Regions from separate parts of the Homo sapiens genome. Here regions 2 and 3 are each linked to region 1. Evidence: fine-mapped expression QTL. A gene starts in region 1. Each other region holds a variant in brackets. All regions are shown on one strand. Distances are from middle to middle. Region 1 holds the start of TRAF7 (TNF receptor associated factor 7). Region 2 overlaps TSC2 (TSC complex subunit 2). Region 3 overlaps CASKIN1 (CASK interacting protein 1).

Region 1 (2,835 bases):
TTTGAGAGACTCAGCAAGGCCCAGAACCCTCAGCAGGTGTGTGGCTACCATTCCTCCATGGCCCATGGCTGCCTCCCTAAGGAGGCACATGGGAACCCTAGGTGGTGTCAACTTCCCTCCACAAATCTCAAAAGCCTTTTTGGACTCACCCTGGGGCAAAAGGCATGAAAAACAGTATTTGACTGGGCGTGGTGGCTCACACCTGTGATCCCAGCACTTTGGGAGGCTGAGGTGGGCAGATCACCTGAGGTCAGGAGTTTGAGACCAGCCTAACACGGAGAAACCCCGTCTCTACTAAAAATACAAAATTAGCCGGGCGTGGTGGTGGGCGCCTGTAATTCCAGCCATTTGGGAGGCTCAGGCAGGAAAATCGCTTGAGGTGGAGGTTGTGCCATCGCACTCCCGCCTGGGAAACGAGCAAAACTCCGTCTCAAAAAAAAAAAAAAAAAATCACGGGCAGAAATGGAGAAGGCAATCCCAAGAGATGAAAAGTCACTGGTAACGAGCTTCCGTTTTCATGTCTGTACCCTTTTCCAAGATTGCCTGTGGATCAGCCAGACCTCTGGGGTGCCAGAATAGGAAAATAAAGACACTTGAGAGAAAACCGAATCAACTCACTACCTTTCTTTATTGCTAAGCACTTCAATAGACACAGCGCCCACCTTACCGCTAGGCCCTCCGGATTGAGGTTTACTTAGGTTCAAAACTTGCAGCCGGCTCGCGACGAAACCTGAAAGTCAGCGCCAAAATACAGACATTAAGTCCCCACTCCTTCGTTTCGGGCAACACCTGTTTCCACTCTCAGCTCCCCGTCAGGAGTGCGCACCCTCAAGCCTCAGTCTTGCTAAATAATCAGACTGCACGTGCAGTTTTCATACGAGGTGTCAGAAGTCAAAGCAATTCATCACAGACTGGGAGAATAAGGGAACCCAAGCCCGGCCCAGTCTTACCTGCAGGTAGCTGAGGGCCTGAGATTCGGGAAGAAACCTTTAAACGCTAAGGGACAAAGTGGTGCGTAGGCCAGGCCTGGACGCCCAGGGACCTGGCCGGCCTGCAGCGTTCGGACGGCCCTCAAAGCCACGCTCGTGGCTCAGTTCGTCCCAAGATCGTAGCACATGGCGAACGTATTAACAAACCTCTTCCCCCTCGGACTCGACCCCGAAAAGACAGGGGCGGGCGAGGCTCAAGCTTTTATAGAAACTGTCCCACCTCTGTCATTGGGCTATCCTGGCGGAAGTGCCCGCCTTCCCCCGCCGCTGGTACGCTCCGCTCCCTGCCGCGTTGTTTCCACCAATCGTACCGTGGCATTTCTTTTGGAGACGGTCTCTCAGACCCAGACCCGAAGCTCCTCCCTTATGCAGAGTCCGTGAAGCCTAACGGTGAGTGACGGATGAACAAAGCCAATCAGACTTCGATCTGCAACATAGAGTGATTCTGAAGCTGCCATTCCCGCCCCGCGACGACGAGGCCGCCGGAAGTCGTAGTTTCGGAAGTGCGGCGCGTGAGGCAGCCGTCCGGGCCCGGAGAGGCGGGGAACTACACGTCCCGGCGGGCGCAGCGGCCTGGCGCTTCCGGCTCGCGCGTCTAGTCCCTTTCCCGGCCGGCGGCCGAGGGGGCATCATGAAGCGGGCTGGCGGCGCTGCCGCTCCCGGGCGGCCGCGGGCGGGTGAGTGTCCCCGCGGCGCGCCCGACCCGGGGCTCGCGCCTCGGGACCGCGCGGTGGGGCGGGATCGGGCGCGTGGAGATCGAGGCGAGGCGAGGCGAGGCGAGGGGTCGGGCCGGGGCGGGGAGGGGGGGGCGGGGCTGAGACGGTCGGGGTCGGGGTCAGGGTCGGGGTCCGCGTCGCTGTCCGTCCGCCAGTCAGTAGTCCGTCCCTCGCTCCGTCCTGTTCTCGCGCAGTTCTTTACTCATTCCTTCTTCCTGCATTCCCCGAGACTCCCGGGTGCCAGGCACTGTTCTGGGCGCCGGGAGACCGCGGAGAACACGGTCCCAGTTCTCCTGTGCTCGGCGTCTGCTGCAGGGTTCCCCAACCTCCGCACCATCGACCACGCGGCCCGGGTCGCTTTTTGCTGCGAGGAGCTGCCCTGTACATTGTAGGATGTGGAACAGCTTGCCTGGCTCCTGGCCGCTAGATACCAGTAAACACCACCCCTTCCTCAATTGCGATAACAAATGTCTCCATGCATTGGCAAATGCCTCCTGCGGAACAACTCCCCCCATCCCCCATCTAGACAGACAGGGTGGTGGGATTGACAATAGGTAGTTAAAATCATGGGGAGCAGCGGTATGTGCTGTGAAAGAAAGAAAGAGGGTGCTGAAAAAGTGAGTACTGGCCGGGGGTAGGGGCGGCGCTACCGTTAGCCAAAGGCCTGTTGGAGAAGCAGCCAGTCCCAGGACATGCAGGAGGAGCATTCCAAGTAGAAAGAGCCAGATGTACATAGGCCTGGGGTGAGAAGGGGCCTGACGCACCCCAGCAAGCACTGGCAAGTGGAGAGGTGAAGTCGATGAGGCCGGACCAGGCTCACAGGGTGCATGGTGGGGTGGGGCGGGGGGGTTATTATGCTGGCAAATGACTTGGGGTTGAGGAAGCGCTGGAGAGGCGGTCCGATCTAGGTCCAGTAAAGAGCTTTCTAACTGTGTGTGGACCACAGACTTCAGAGTTCACTGGGGAAGCAGGAGAGAGGGAGGCTAGGCCATCGTCTCCTAGTCCCCACTGGGGTCCTGCTGTCAAGATACGGTTGTCTTGAGCCAGGCCAGAGTGGTCAGCTGGGGTTGAGTCTGGAGTCCAGGGGCAGGGGCCTGCTGGAGCCCACCCTGCTCTTGGGGGTGAGGGGC
Region 2 (2,500 bases), 75 kb before region 1:
GTGGGAACCGGGACCCGGTCGTTACTAGGCCTGGACTCGGGGGAGCTGCAGTCCGGCCCGGAGTCGAGGTGACTGCACCTTCCTTTCCTCCGCGCCTGCCAGCCTCGACACCGGCTGTCCCGAGCCCAGGCCCACGTGGCACCCTCGTACCAGCCTGGGGACTAAGTCCACCCTGTGCGTGGGATTCTCTTCTCAGCTCCAGCCCCGGGGTGCATGTGAGACAGACCAAGGAGGCGCCGGCCAAGCTGGAGTCCCAGGCTGGGCAGCAGGTGTCCCGTGGGGCCCGGGATCGGGTCCGTTCCATGTCGGGTGAGCCTTGGCCCCAGCCACCTCCACACAGGCACCGGGGCTCCCTCAGTTGCTGCTGGTCCCAGTGTTCAGGAAGGCCCCGAGCCCAGGGGCCGGGGTGGCTGGCTTCAGGCCCGGCCCACGTCCTGACTCTGGGGTGAGCCTTCCACAGCTCACCCCAGAGCCGTGGAGTGGTGGAGTGTGGCCCGCTTGCTGCAGAGGGGCCTGCTCTGGGTGCTGGTGTTTCCTGCGGGTTTTCAGCTCGGCTCAGTCCTGGAGCCCTTCTCTGCTCCAGCGAGCCGTGGTCTGACTGCAGGACAGGTTCTGGGTCCCTCCCTGTGGCCCTGGGTTCACTGAGGCCAGCACTGTGGTGGGCCGTGCCCCAAGGGCAGAGCTGCCACCGTCTCTGGCTGCCTGTGGCACTAGCTTGCCAGGCTCGGGGGGAGCATTCAGCTTGAGGCTGGTGGTTTTGCATCAGGTAAGTGGTGGTCACCAGTCCTCTGCCCTCTTCTTCAGGGGGCCATGGTCTTCGAGTTGGCGCCCTGGACGTGCCGGCCTCCCAGTTCCTGGGCAGTGCCACTTCTCCAGGACCACGGACTGCACCAGCCGCGAAACCTGAGAAGGCCTCAGCTGGCACCCGGGTTCCTGTGCAGGAGAAGACGAACCTGGCGGCCTATGTGCCCCTGCTGACCCAGGGCTGGGCGGAGATCCTGGTCCGGAGGCCCACAGGTACTGGGCGGGGCTGGCCTGAGCGCCATCTTTCTGCCAGTCACCCACAGAGCTGTGGACACTCAGGGGCGATTGCAGACTTGGCCCTCTTGGGATATTTGGGGGTAACTTTTGTTTTTTTTTTGAGACAGAGTCTTGCTCTGTGGCCCACGCTGGAACGCAGTGGCGCAATCTCGGCTCACTGCAAGCTCCACCTCCCGGGTTCACGCCATTCTCCTGCCTCAGCCTCCCGAGTAGCTGGGACCACAGGCGCCCGCCACCACGCCTGGCCAATTTTTTTGTATTTCTAGTAGAGATGGGGTTTCACTGTGTTAGCCAGGATGGTCTCAATCT[C/T]CTGACCTCGTGATCCGCCCGCCTTGGCCTCCCAAAGTGCTGGGATTACAGGCGTGAGCCACCGCGCCCAGCCATTTGGGGGTAACTTGTAAGTCTCCAGAGGTGAGCTGTGAGGGGCGATCCAGGTGGCTGAGGTGGGGCAGGGGCCTGTGGCGAACCAAGTGACTTCCATGGCAGAGAGTTGCCCTCCCCGCCTGGAGGCTGCAAGTCCGAGACCAAGGTGCTCCTCGGCAGGAGGTGCTCCTCAGAGGCCTCAATCCTTGGCATGCAGTTGGTTTTTTCCCTGTGTCCTCACAGGCTCTTTCCTGGATGTCTGCGTGTTAATCTCCTCTTGGGAGGAAACCGGTCATGGCTTAGGGTCCGCTCTGGTCCCTTGCTAGCCGTAATTAGCTTTCTGAAACCCAGTCTCCAGAGACAGTCCCGTTCTGAGTTCCTGGGGTTGGGACTAAAGCATACCAACATGGGGGCACAGCTCAGCCTGTTCCCAGGGGCAGAGGGAGCCCCCGCAGAGGCCCAGAGCCCAGGGACAGAGGGAGGCCTTTGCAGAGGCCCAGAGCCCAGGGGCGCCTGGGTGTGCCGTGGCTGAGGGGTGCAAAGAGTAGGGGTTCCAGCCCTCGTGGAGGCCTTGGGTCCGGACTGTGAGGCTGTGGGCTGGAGGCCGCTGCTCTGAGGTGCCTGGCGGAGCCTGGCCTCGAGGCAGGGGCTGAGCGGGGCAGCAGGGTGGGTGGCCGTCAGAGCAGCGCTGGCTCCGACATCGTGGTCCTGAGGATTGTGGGAGGGAGCATGAGGGCAAAACCAGGGCCCAGGCCAGGAGGCCCCTGGGGGGCCAGAGATGGGTAAGGGGAGGTACTGGCCTCAGGCCAAAGGTGCTGCCGCCTCCGCAGGGAACACCAGCTGGCTGATGAGCCTGGAGAACCCGCTCAGCCCTTTCTCCTCGGACATCAACAACATGCCCCTGCAGGAGCTGTCTAACGCCCTCATGGCGGCTGAGCGCTTCAAGGAGCACCGGGACACAGCCCTGTACAAGTCACTGTCGGTGCCGGCAGCCAGCACGGCCAAACCCCCTCCTCTGCCTCGCTCCAACACAGGTGAGTGGCATGGCGGGCCTTGGCACGGGCTCTGCTCCCACTGGCCTGGTGCTCCCGGTGAC
Region 3 (2,835 bases), 39 kb after region 1:
GGCGACTTAATGGGTGTGCGGCCTGTGCTTGGCTCAGAAGGACCCCATGCCTGCGGATGCTCTCCTGTCGCCATCTCGAAATTCTTTTTCTTTTTTTTTATTGGAGATGGAGTTTCATTCTTGTTGCCCAGGCTGGAGTGCAATGGTGCGATCTCGGCTCACCACAACCTCCACCTCCCGGGTTCAAGCAATTCTTCTGCTTCAGCCTCCAGAGTAGCTGGGATTACAGGCACGCACCACCACTCCTGGCTAATTTTGTATTTTTAGTAGAGACGGGGTTTCTCCATGTTGGTCAGGCTGGTCTCGAACTCCCGACCTCAGGTGATCCGCCTGCCTCAGCCTCCCAAAGTGCTGGGATGACAGGCATGAGCCACCATGCCCGGCCTGAAATTCTTATTTTTGAGCAAGGGGCCCTGCGTTTACATTTTGCATGGGGACCTGGGAATTATGTCGTGGGGCCTACCACCATCCCTTGCCATTAGCTAAAGGGAGCGCAGGTGTCACTGTCCCGTGCATCCCCGCCAGGACCACACTCAGGAGGTTCTCCCCACAGAACGCTGACCCCCACTCTTCCCAGCTCCAGGGTGGACAGCCCTCAGCATGTCCCCAGGACTGTCCAAGCCAGGCCCTGTCCTCCCTCCCACAGCTGAGGCAGCCAGTGTGGAAACCACCTTCTCACCCAGCCACACCTTCAGGGGCTGAAATCTCGGAGAGGCTGGAGGTCAAAGCCCAGAAAGTAACATCTGCCAGTGGGGGAGGGTGTCTCCCTCAGGAAGGGGACCACCCCCATGTGAGGAGGGGTGCCTTACTAAAGCCATCTCGTCCCTCTCCCCACTTATGGTCTCCTCAAGGGGGAAACTGGCTGAAATTGGATGGCAGCAACTTGAGGTCTTGGGACACACTAACCCCCATTCCTGTGGGGGGACAGTGGGTACCCAGGAAGGTCCCAGAACTGAGAAGGGCCTGGGGCTGGGGGCTGTTTTCACCTGGAAACGGGTTCTCTGGATGAAGCAGGAGCAGAGCATGGCTGGAGGGGGCCGGGGCCAGGATGAAAGTCCAGGAGCCCCCCTCCCTCTCCACGAGGTCCCTAAGCCCTGTGACTCTATGACAGTAAAGGCCTTACCCCCGACCAGCCCTCTCACTGCTATCCTGAGCCTGTCCCCACCTCTGGGGTCCAGTCCATATCCCAGGCTAGAAGGGAGCTACTAGTGGGCTATTAGAAGGTGAGAGGGGGATGGGGAGCTGGCCCTCGGTGCTCAGGG[G/A]TGTCCTCCACGGCATTCTTGGGCCTGCCTCCATGGACAGGGGGCCTCCATGGATAGGGTCCGGGTCAGAGGGAAGAGTGGGTCCCTCCTGGCCAGCAGGAGGCCAGCCCCTGCACCGGCATCTCCCCCAGAACAGGCTCCTCTTCCCCTCAAGGACAGCTGCTAAGTGTGTGCGTGCGGGCACGGGAGGCTCCCTTCAGGGCAGGGCGAGTCGGGGGCTGGCTGAGCCTGGGGTGACTCTGGAGCAGGGGCTGGAGGGAAGGGACTGGGCAACCAGAGGGGACCATGGAAGCAAAGCTCATGGGGACAGCCCTGGGCTCACGGGGCCCTGGAGGATACTGCTGGACACCCCCCACCTCGTGGCCCAAACTCAGCTGTACTTTACTGAATCAAAATACATCTTACTCCAAAGCAGGCCAGCGTTGCCATGACGACGGAGCTAATTCATGGAGGGATTTCTCCTCTGATTTATTACACCCGCCCCTGTGAGTCAGAGAGCAGGAGCCGGGGCCAGGGCAGGTGTCTCTCCTGTCCCAGAGGCCAGGCAAGACAGGCAGAGACCCAGGTGAGAGTGGAAGCCCCCACACCTCCCCAGAATGGCCACAATAGAAGGGAGGAGGAACCTCCCCAGAGCTGAAGCCCCCACTTCCCCAGCCCCTGGCCCTGGGCCGTCCAAGACTGCGGTCATTGCTGGCATTTACTGAGCACTTACTGAATGCCTGGGCTGCAAGTGCCCAGGCTCACTGGTCTTAGGACCCCACCGTGAGGCTGACATCCCATCCTACAGACGAGGAGACTGAGGTCCACTGAGCTGGAGTTGTCTGTGTCCAAGGTCATGCGGCCACTAGGTGGAAACCTTTACCTTGCCTTCCCTCAATCCCTACACCTGCTCTCCAGGCTCAGCTGAGGCTGCCTCTGCCCACAAGCTCTCCCTTTCTGAGCCCCCGGACCTGAAATCAGCTCGGGGCCAGCCTGCAAGGCACCGGTGCCCCCTCTCTCTTACTGCACAGAGTGGACAGGAGCTAGCCAGTCATGGGCTGCTGGTGAAGTACGGGGGAGGGGGTCCTCCTGGGACTCCTAGGTGCCCCCAACAATCTCCCAGAAGCCAGTCCCAGTTCTCGGCATCCCCCTGGAGGAAGGGGAGGGGGACTCTCTGGCTTACAGTCTGTGGGGGTGGAGGGAGGAGGGAGGACGCCCAGACCCCACGTGCCGACCTGCAGAGCCCTGTCCGTGCCCGCACAGGTGCCCTGACACACTGACACGGCTATACGTGCGCAGCCGCACACGCGGCTGGTCCACACGCCCATCCATCCATCTCCGGCGGCCCCCAGGGAGGCTACGCGCTGAGCCAGGATGAGTGCTGGGACCAGGGCTCCAAGCTCCCAGCCCTTTCCTGGGGCCGGCCATAGGGCAAGCTGGGGATGGCCAGTGGTGGTCCCCCACTCCCTCATGGCCTCCTTTCCCAGCAGGGAAGCTGGAGACCCGGCTCTGCTGGAGCCTGCCTGAGCAGGGCCCCAAGCCCTTGCGCCCAGGCCGGCCCTGCCTGGAGTCCAGCCTGCCCTGGGCTGGGCGA

What was found. PIP is the estimated chance that this variant, and not a neighbour inherited with it, causes the effect.
Region 2: its variant is fine-mapped to the expression of TRAF7 in whole blood (TOPMed, PIP above 0.99).
Region 3: its variant is fine-mapped to the expression of TRAF7 in whole blood (TOPMed, PIP 0.99).

The regions. Positions count from the first base shown.
Region 1 is chr16:2,154,193-2,157,027 of GRCh38, forward strand. TRAF7 (TNF receptor associated factor 7) reads left to right here and starts at 1,590. Exons shown (of 21, transcript NM_032271.3): 1 at 1,590-1,666. It overlaps SNHG19 (small nucleolar RNA host gene 19), which reads right to left and starts at 1,166. Exons shown (of 2, transcript NR_132114.1): 1 at 951-1,166; 2 at 590-730. SNORD60 (small nucleolar RNA, C/D box 60) reads right to left here and starts at 913; the gene lies at 831-913. RefSeq lists enhancers at 955-1,154, 2,025-2,124, 2,135-2,274, 2,198-2,779, 2,780-2,835 and a silencer at 1,635-1,724.
Region 2 is chr16:2,079,361-2,081,860 of GRCh38, forward strand. TSC2 (TSC complex subunit 2) reads left to right here. Exons shown (of 42, transcript NM_000548.5): 28 at 1-68; 29 at 197-309; 30 at 805-1,017; 31 at 2,235-2,438. Among named protein-coding and RNA genes, the nearest start is that of MIR1225, 9.7 kb to the right of the region's middle. The variant C/T (reference allele first, on the strand shown) is at 1,351.
Region 3 is chr16:2,192,932-2,195,766 of GRCh38, forward strand. The region is part of intron 1 of CASKIN1 (CASK interacting protein 1); the gene reads right to left. Among named protein-coding and RNA genes, the nearest start is that of CASKIN1, 2.3 kb to the right of the region's middle. The variant G/A (reference allele first, on the strand shown) is at 1,263.